Homo sapiens: one gene and its partner. The protein of the gene in region 2 interacts with the protein of the main gene of each other region in a biochemical or structural test. Each region holds a gene or a part of one and is shown on either strand. Other genes may lie near its edges.

Region 1 (3,755 bases), on a different chromosome or scaffold from region 2:
GCAAAAGAGATTAACTGAGAAATCTCTTAACTAGTGAGAAAAATAGATAAAAGCAGGTAGAAATTTCTATGGACTCAATGTCTTTGGTCTCTTTTAGCTGGGTTCAAGTATTTTAGGAGGAACTGGCAGGATGCTTAATGGCTGTTATTTTTTGCCACATGAAACAAAACTCAGACATTATCTCTTTTGTGCTAGAAATAATCTGGTATATTGCCCAAGTACCAACAAAGGTAAAACCATCAATATTTTCCAAAAGACAGTTCAACTAAGGAAACGGTAACAATAATAGCAGAAATAGATTTTATCAAAATATACAGTGATCTGTGACTCCTTTTCTCTCAGTTAAAAACAGTGCCTAAAACCCCTAACTTTAGCCTGCTTTTAGGGCTTAAACTTTCTAGCAGAAAAGGTATTTTTAAAGGACTGGCAAGGTAAAGAACAAAGCTTCTGACTACCTCCTTCTAACAGTGAAATACATTTTATCTTCAAATACTCTGAGTGACACTGAAGCACTGCACCTACATTTTTTGCTGGTGGTGGGAATGGGATGGGCATGAAAGCATGTAGAAGGGCAAGGAGAACGTACATTTTTTTAATGCCATTCTAAAACAATTATAACAGCATATAGGAGTGGAGGGCTCTGCTGTGAGACCATGACTTGGCTCAGGGCTGCTCATCCAATCTCTTTCCAGACCTTCCTTTCTTTTTGTGTAAAATGAAGCCCTGACTCTGCAACTAGGATCTCACTAGATACTGAAGATATAGAATTCTTGGATGACTAATTTAAATTTTGTTTGGCTCGTAAAGGAAGGAATATATCAAACAGGTTTTACACTCTAAAATAATATAAAATTGGAAAATGGATGGTCAGGGCTTTGTTTTTATAACCAAGCAAAGCAAAACACGCATAAAAACATACCATTCCTGAAGTTCAGGAGAAGGAATGAGACCTGCAGTTCCATTTTTGGAGTTTTCCAGTTTACCCTGCCACCAATTATGATCATCCTTACTAATAATCTGGATGATGTCACCAACTCTGAATCGAATGCCAGCTTCTTTACAGGGGATGAGGTCATCCTTGGCTGGATCATATTCAAATTGTGCTCTTACATAGATCTATAAAACAGGAGTTCGTAAGAAAGGATGCCATAGTGATGTGAAAGAGAAGTTAGCTCTAATGTCATAACCACACACCAACAGTTACAATACAAACAGGACATCAGATGGTGAAAGCAAAAACGATGCATGGAAATACGACACAAAAAACTTCTACCGCTAGAAACAATGTACTAGTAATCTTTGATGAGTATAGCTTCAAAACTTTGCTGTTTTTATTTGGAAGGAACACTTGAAATACTTGTTTAATAAAAATAAAGACTTAATTTATGCTTTTACTGTAACAGAATAGGCCTCTAATTATAGAAAAGTATGCTCGCTCTTTTTTAAACCTGCATTGGTGATGCTGGCATTATGGATACGTTGTCATGACTGCGTGGCAGCCTTTAAGCCATAAATACTAGCAGTCAGGATAGGTTTTAACCCTAAAGCAGCACACGATATAAAATTAGCAAGAACTCTGGGTTGGTATCTTGCTGTAGAATGCTTATATGACAACTGGCAGTGTGTCTACACATTGCTGATAAAGTTAAGTGTAACTCAAACAATTTTTTAAAAGTTAAAAAAAGCTTCATTTTTTTCTAATTTAGGTTTTAGGTTTGTATTTTACTCTTCTGAGAGAATAAAAATGAATTTGAACCCTAGCTTCCCCCAATGTAACACTTGAAATCAGCACAGAGCTTCAAGACATGCATAGTTCAAGGCTCTGAGTTTTATGATATGTGAGTTTACTTAGGAAATAGATTAGCATTCAAGGGTTTATTATATGGCAGCATTTTATGAATTATTTTATTTTTTAAATGCTTTAAGATAAGGTAATTCATACCCAATGTTCCATCAATTATACAGTCTTAAGACAAAATTATGGGTGAATTCTATCAGGTACTAATTTATACATATCTTAACACTAAATCTGATTATTTTTAATACCATATTTCAAGATAAAAATCCCATAAAAATTCTATCTCTTGAAATTAAAATTGAATATTAATGTTTAAGTCACTGTAAAACCAACCTGAAGACTTTGGAACCACTGTGTGATTTTTCTGTTTATTTTCAGCAATCCAGCCTATAAAATTACAAGTCTCTGCATTTGCATTTAAAATCTATACCTCTAAAGTGCTGGCAATTTGAAAGTTACTTGCCAGTGTTAGGCAGCACTTAACTTTTCATGTTTGAACTAACACAGGTATATCAGGATGTGAAGCTAAGATAATTTATATTCTTTTCTTATTTTTCATTGCAAATGGCTTTTAGAAATACACATGCAAATACAAATTTAAGAAAAAGCTTTCAACTTCAGAAAATTTTTGCTTAAAAATGTTCATCAGCATTTTAAGAATAACTTTTTAGTTAGTCTTAGAATTCTAAGAATTTTATAACCTTTAAAATTCTTTTGCATGCCAGAGGCAGGCCCACAGCCACCCCCAAAGGCTGAATTCTTAACCATTAATATAAAATTATCAGGTTGAAATTACAATAACCATTACAGCTACAAAGATGTGAGGAAAAATTCTTTATAGAGAATTAGTCATGTGTAATGTGTTAAAATGAAATGGTACAAGCTCTCAATGCTCAAATGTTATGGTCCAAAATGCAAACATTATGGGATGGAAAGGGTTAATAAAGGATTGGCTATTAGCTGCTCAGTTTAGAGAAGTTTCTATAGAGGATATCTATTCACCTGTCGTCCTTTTGGTTGGGTAGTTGATGGCAAGTCCTGTAGAATAAAGCCAACCCAGGAGAAAAATTTTCATTTATTTTTCAAGAGTACAAAGTAATTTGTGTGTTCTGTTACAATATGGTTAAAAAAATGAGCTAGATTTAAGTTGTAAAGAGATAATATACATTATTCCATTTATCAGAAATGTTGAGTTATCAAAAAGTCAAACCCAGGCCATTTAGCAGCAAGCTGAAGAAAGCAGGTAAGTTTAAGCAGAGAGAAAATGTGTTCTTAAGAAACAACTCAGCATCTTCAACACAAAAGCCACTGCAAGTGAAACAGCCTATTAAAAAAAAAAAATAAATAAAAGGAGCTGTTGCCCTTTTCAACTTAGTCACTGCAACCATTTAGATTTTGAAAAATTCAATGGCTATATGGCTTTTCATCATCTTAAAAGTATTAAATGTTAACTGTTATGAATGAATTCCTTTGGTAGCCTATTTTAAAGTTGAAAATAAAGTCATAGACAATTTTCTTTCATAATTTCTCTTACGATATACTTAGAATATCATTCCATTTGAGATAATTTCTAAATTATTTACAATTTTACCTGATAAAAAAGTTGATATATTCTCAAAGGGCAAATTAAAAGTCAGGAAAGAAGAATACTGCTGCATTATTAGAACTCTCAATAATTTTAACTGGGTCATAAACAGCAGTATTAGCAACCAAAATATTGCCAGTCTGCACCTGTTAAGTGCTTCCATTTGTTTAAATAAGTTAAAAACAATTCTTTCTATATTCCAAAATGGATAGTTCTGAAAAAATTTAAAACTCCAAGTTCAAGTCAAATATAAAGTACTTTGTGTTAAAGATGTGATAACAGCGTGGCTTAAGTGCAGTTTGAAGCCAGTTCTTTTTGCTTTTCATATCCAGGCAAGGCTTATAATTCACAAAAATATGTGCACGTACCACA
Region 2 (3,755 bases):
GTACCAAAGTAAAGCAGAAGAGAGCAGCTCATTGGCAGTATTTTTGCTGAGATTTTTCTATTCTTCTCATGAAAAGCCCATCATTAATTGGCTGCCTTGTGGAAAGACAGACAACAGGTCAGAGAATGGATTATCTGGGTTCTAGTCTAGAGACCTTTTCACTGCTCATTAGTACTGCTTTACTATTACAAGTTAGAAAAGGGAAGAGAAATCTCAAATAGGTGAATACTCAGGTTTGTGACTAGGGAGAGAGGTAAACAAGTTCTGGTGAGAAATGAAATGGACCTAAGTAGTTACTGTAATATGAGAGACTGAGTTTAATTCATCCATATCCATATCATCTTTGTCCCATTATTATTACAAATCATATGGTTTCACCATGTGATTGAGTCCCTAAAGTCATTTAAGAGAGTTGATCTTTTCAGTTTCCTCTGACTCAGCCTCTGATCCGGCAGGCTGAACAAAGCGTGCAATCCAGGGATCTGAGAGTGTGGGAACTGAAGGACTCCACAGAACTGGAGCCGCCCTGCAGCTGGAGGTGCACAAGCCTCAAGCGGCTCTGGGTGGAAAATTCATTTTTTAAGTCAAAATGTTTTATCGTATGGAAGCAAAGGCTTGACTAAGAAGATACCATTTGGTAATATGGAACTAATCTGAAATACCTTCACTCTTGTATGAATGTATGTGCAAAATGAATCCGCAAAAAGACAGCAGGGATGATTAAATGAGGCCAAGTAAAGATCTGCCACATCCATGTCTGGTTGTTTGGATGCCATGGAAATGCAACAGAAGTAAAAGCTTATGAGTGATGCTCTTCTCAAACAAATAACGAGATTCCCTTTTGTGCATTTTAGTCACTTAAATTTACAACAAACTAGATAGGATATCCGTAACAGTGACATTAATGCCACTGTGAGACCAATTGAAAAGCAAAATCTACACTAATGGTATCCTAGAGGCAATGTTCAATTCGGCTGTACCACATAAACAGCAAAATGAAAAATTTAATCATTATTATTCATGTTATTCATGATCAATATTATCATTATCAGTGCTGCAAACAGTGTTCGACACATAATGAATAGCACTCAACAAATCTCCTATAAATGGATGAATTTCTACTATTACTATATTGAACACAAATGATAGTAAGAATATAAATGTATTAAAATCTTTTGGGCTCCTTAATTTTTAAATTCACCTGCCAAAGTTCTACATTTTTTATCTCGATCTGATGCAATTACTTCCTTAAAACCAATTTTTAAAAACTTAAATTAGTGGTCAATCCATTGCTGTTAACAAACCAGACAGAACTCTATGTCAAATTAAGTCTTGCTTAGGATAGAACTCTCTATCACTACAAGCCAAAACTCACCCAGGAGAGTTGCTTCCCTCAAGCTAGTGAGTCCTAATTGTCTCTGACTTCAGCAGATTTAGTCAAGAGAAGTGGTCAAATAAAAATGTGGTAAGAGCCAAATGCATCTTTAGTAAATAGTAGCTAATTGTGCCACACACACTCTGAGGCAGTCATCGTACCACCAATTGCACCTGCACTTTTCATTTCTCCCTTTCTTTTTTTGTTTCATTCACTCAACTGAAACATTGATACAGTAGCTTTTATGCATGGATCCAGCACATGCCAGGTGAGTCGGTCTCAGTTCTCATAGGGCTCTCCCTGCCTTCCTACCGCCTGGCTTGTGAAGTCTACCACTAATAGTAATTGACCCTTCTTGGTCCTACAGAAAGCACTTCAATTTGGACAGGGCTGGCTTCCTGGCTGTTCCACATCTGCAGAAACCCATCCAGCGGTGCCATTCACCATTCCAGTCACAGGCACTGGGAGGATGGAGGAGGAGGAAGAACAAAGGTACTCTGGGGCAAGGGTAAGAAAAGCCCACATGCATTCTGGCCTGAAGACGGGATGATTCTTACTCCAAGGAAGGCCTGTCGCCACCTTCATCAAACAGCCTTCCATATCCATACCCTGTCTGCTGCTAAAGCTTGGCAGCATCTCATTTCTAATCAACAGATGGGTGAGCTCTAAAAGGGGATGCTTGTGCTTCTGAGTTTTCTTAAGCCATATGTTACCCCTGCACTGATTGCAAAGTCTACCACTACAGTTATTACACATGCTCATTTGGTGAATTGGCTTGGTCTCTTCTGCTCCACCAATTCAATTAATGCTTACAGAATGGTGACTAGGTCTCAGGTGCCATGCTACATGCACTCACATTTCATCTTCTTCAAGGCCCATAGGAAATGGGTTCAGAAGCTAAGAAACCTGACTGGATCCAGGATTTGAAACTTAGGTCTTTGCCAGACTTTAATATGCATGTTCTAACTTCAGTGGGTTACCTATTAGTGGATGGTCAGCTAACTGCAATATTAACGAGGTCAAAATCACAAGCTCCAAGTTTTCATTAGCTGGTCACTTTACTCAGGTCTAAGGCCAAAGACCTTATTCTTAATAAGTCAGCTCTCAAAATGAATATATACAGATGTACCCAGGTTCATCATCATCGAGAGAGGTCAAGGATTACATAGTACTGATGGTCGGCCTAGGAAGACTGAGAAATGACTTAGTGAGACTAGGACCACCTCAAGACGTGACCTGGAGTCTTCTAATTACGTAACCTACAAACCAGGAAACCAAAGAAACAGGGCTTTACTTCTTAACTGGGCTTCAGACGTTCCTTAAGAAGGAGGGCCATGTGAAAAATAGTTGTATATAATTTGAGCCTGGATGACAGAGATTATAAGTGGGTAAATGCCAAAATGATCAAAAAGAGTAAGGAAGAGCCATTTATAACACCACCTGAAGACCATTTGTCCTTACACAATTTTAAGTGGGGTCTTTTAAAAGAACTGTTGTGTACATAGTTCATGATGGGTAGCTCCAAAAAGAAGAAAATAATACAAAAGGGACTGTTGTGTACAGTCAGTAAAGTGAAGCATTTGTAATAACCTGATAATGCAATGCAATGGAAAATAGAACGCACCTTTGTCTGAGCAGGTATCTTGTTCTGTATATTCAGCGTCGTGGTTTCCACTTTTGGAGCAGCACTAGTCAACAGTATCTTTGGAAGTGGTCGAGATGTTGTCAGCTCTGGACTCTCTACATCCTCATCAGCTCCTGGAAAAGTAAGTGAAGATGAACTGAGCATGGCAATCATGACACAGATGTCTCCATTATCAGGCACTATTGCCTGACGTTGACACTGACAGAATCATGTTCTTTCAAAATGCTGGCTCTTTAAGACTTCAGCACAAAGCTTCCTGTGGTCTTCACCATGATGAAGAAGTGATTTCAAAGGTGTCTGTGGGTAGTCTAGCAAGTTTTTCCTTAATAGTATTATCCTGAACATTCAAGTAGCCCTTCTTTCACTTGCATGTTCCTTTTCTCCCTGCTTGACAAGATTTTTTCCCATCTACACTGAAACGTGCTCCATTTCCATTTTAAGAACACAACAGTCCAGGTGCAGGGGCTCACGCCTGTAATTTCAGCACTTTGGGAGGCCGAGGAGAGCGGATCACGAGGTCAGGAGATCGAGACCAGCCTGGCCTATATGGTGAAACCTCATCTCTACTAAAAATTCAAAAATTTAGCTGGGCGTGGCGGCGCACGCCTGTAATCCCAGCTACTCGGGAGGCTGAGGCAGGAGAATCACTTGAACCTGGAGGTGGAGGTTGCAGTGAGCAGAGGTCACACCATTGCATTCCAGCCTGGGTGGCAGGGTGAGACTCTGCCAAAAATA

The links. The genes of interacting proteins can lie anywhere in the genome.
Region 1: the proteins of SDC2 (region 2) and CASK form a complex in vitro, tested with the Homo sapiens proteins (2 studies listed by BioGRID and IntAct, with this or other methods).

Annotation. Positions count from the first base shown.
Region 1 is NC_000023.11:41,552,800-41,556,554, forward strand, and holds part of CASK (peripheral plasma membrane protein CASK), read right to left. Parts: intron 2,837-3,755; coding exon 2,801-2,836; intron 1,117-2,800; coding exon 920-1,116; intron 1-919. UniProt on the Homo sapiens protein: Multidomain scaffolding Mg(2+)-independent protein kinase that catalyzes the phosphotransfer from ATP to proteins such as NRXN1, and plays a role in synaptic transmembrane protein anchoring and ion channel trafficking.
Region 2 is NC_000008.11:96,601,773-96,605,527, reverse strand, and holds part of SDC2 (syndecan-2 precursor), read right to left. Parts: intron 3,134-3,755; coding exon 3,000-3,133; intron 1-2,999. UniProt on the Homo sapiens protein: Cell surface proteoglycan which regulates dendritic arbor morphogenesis.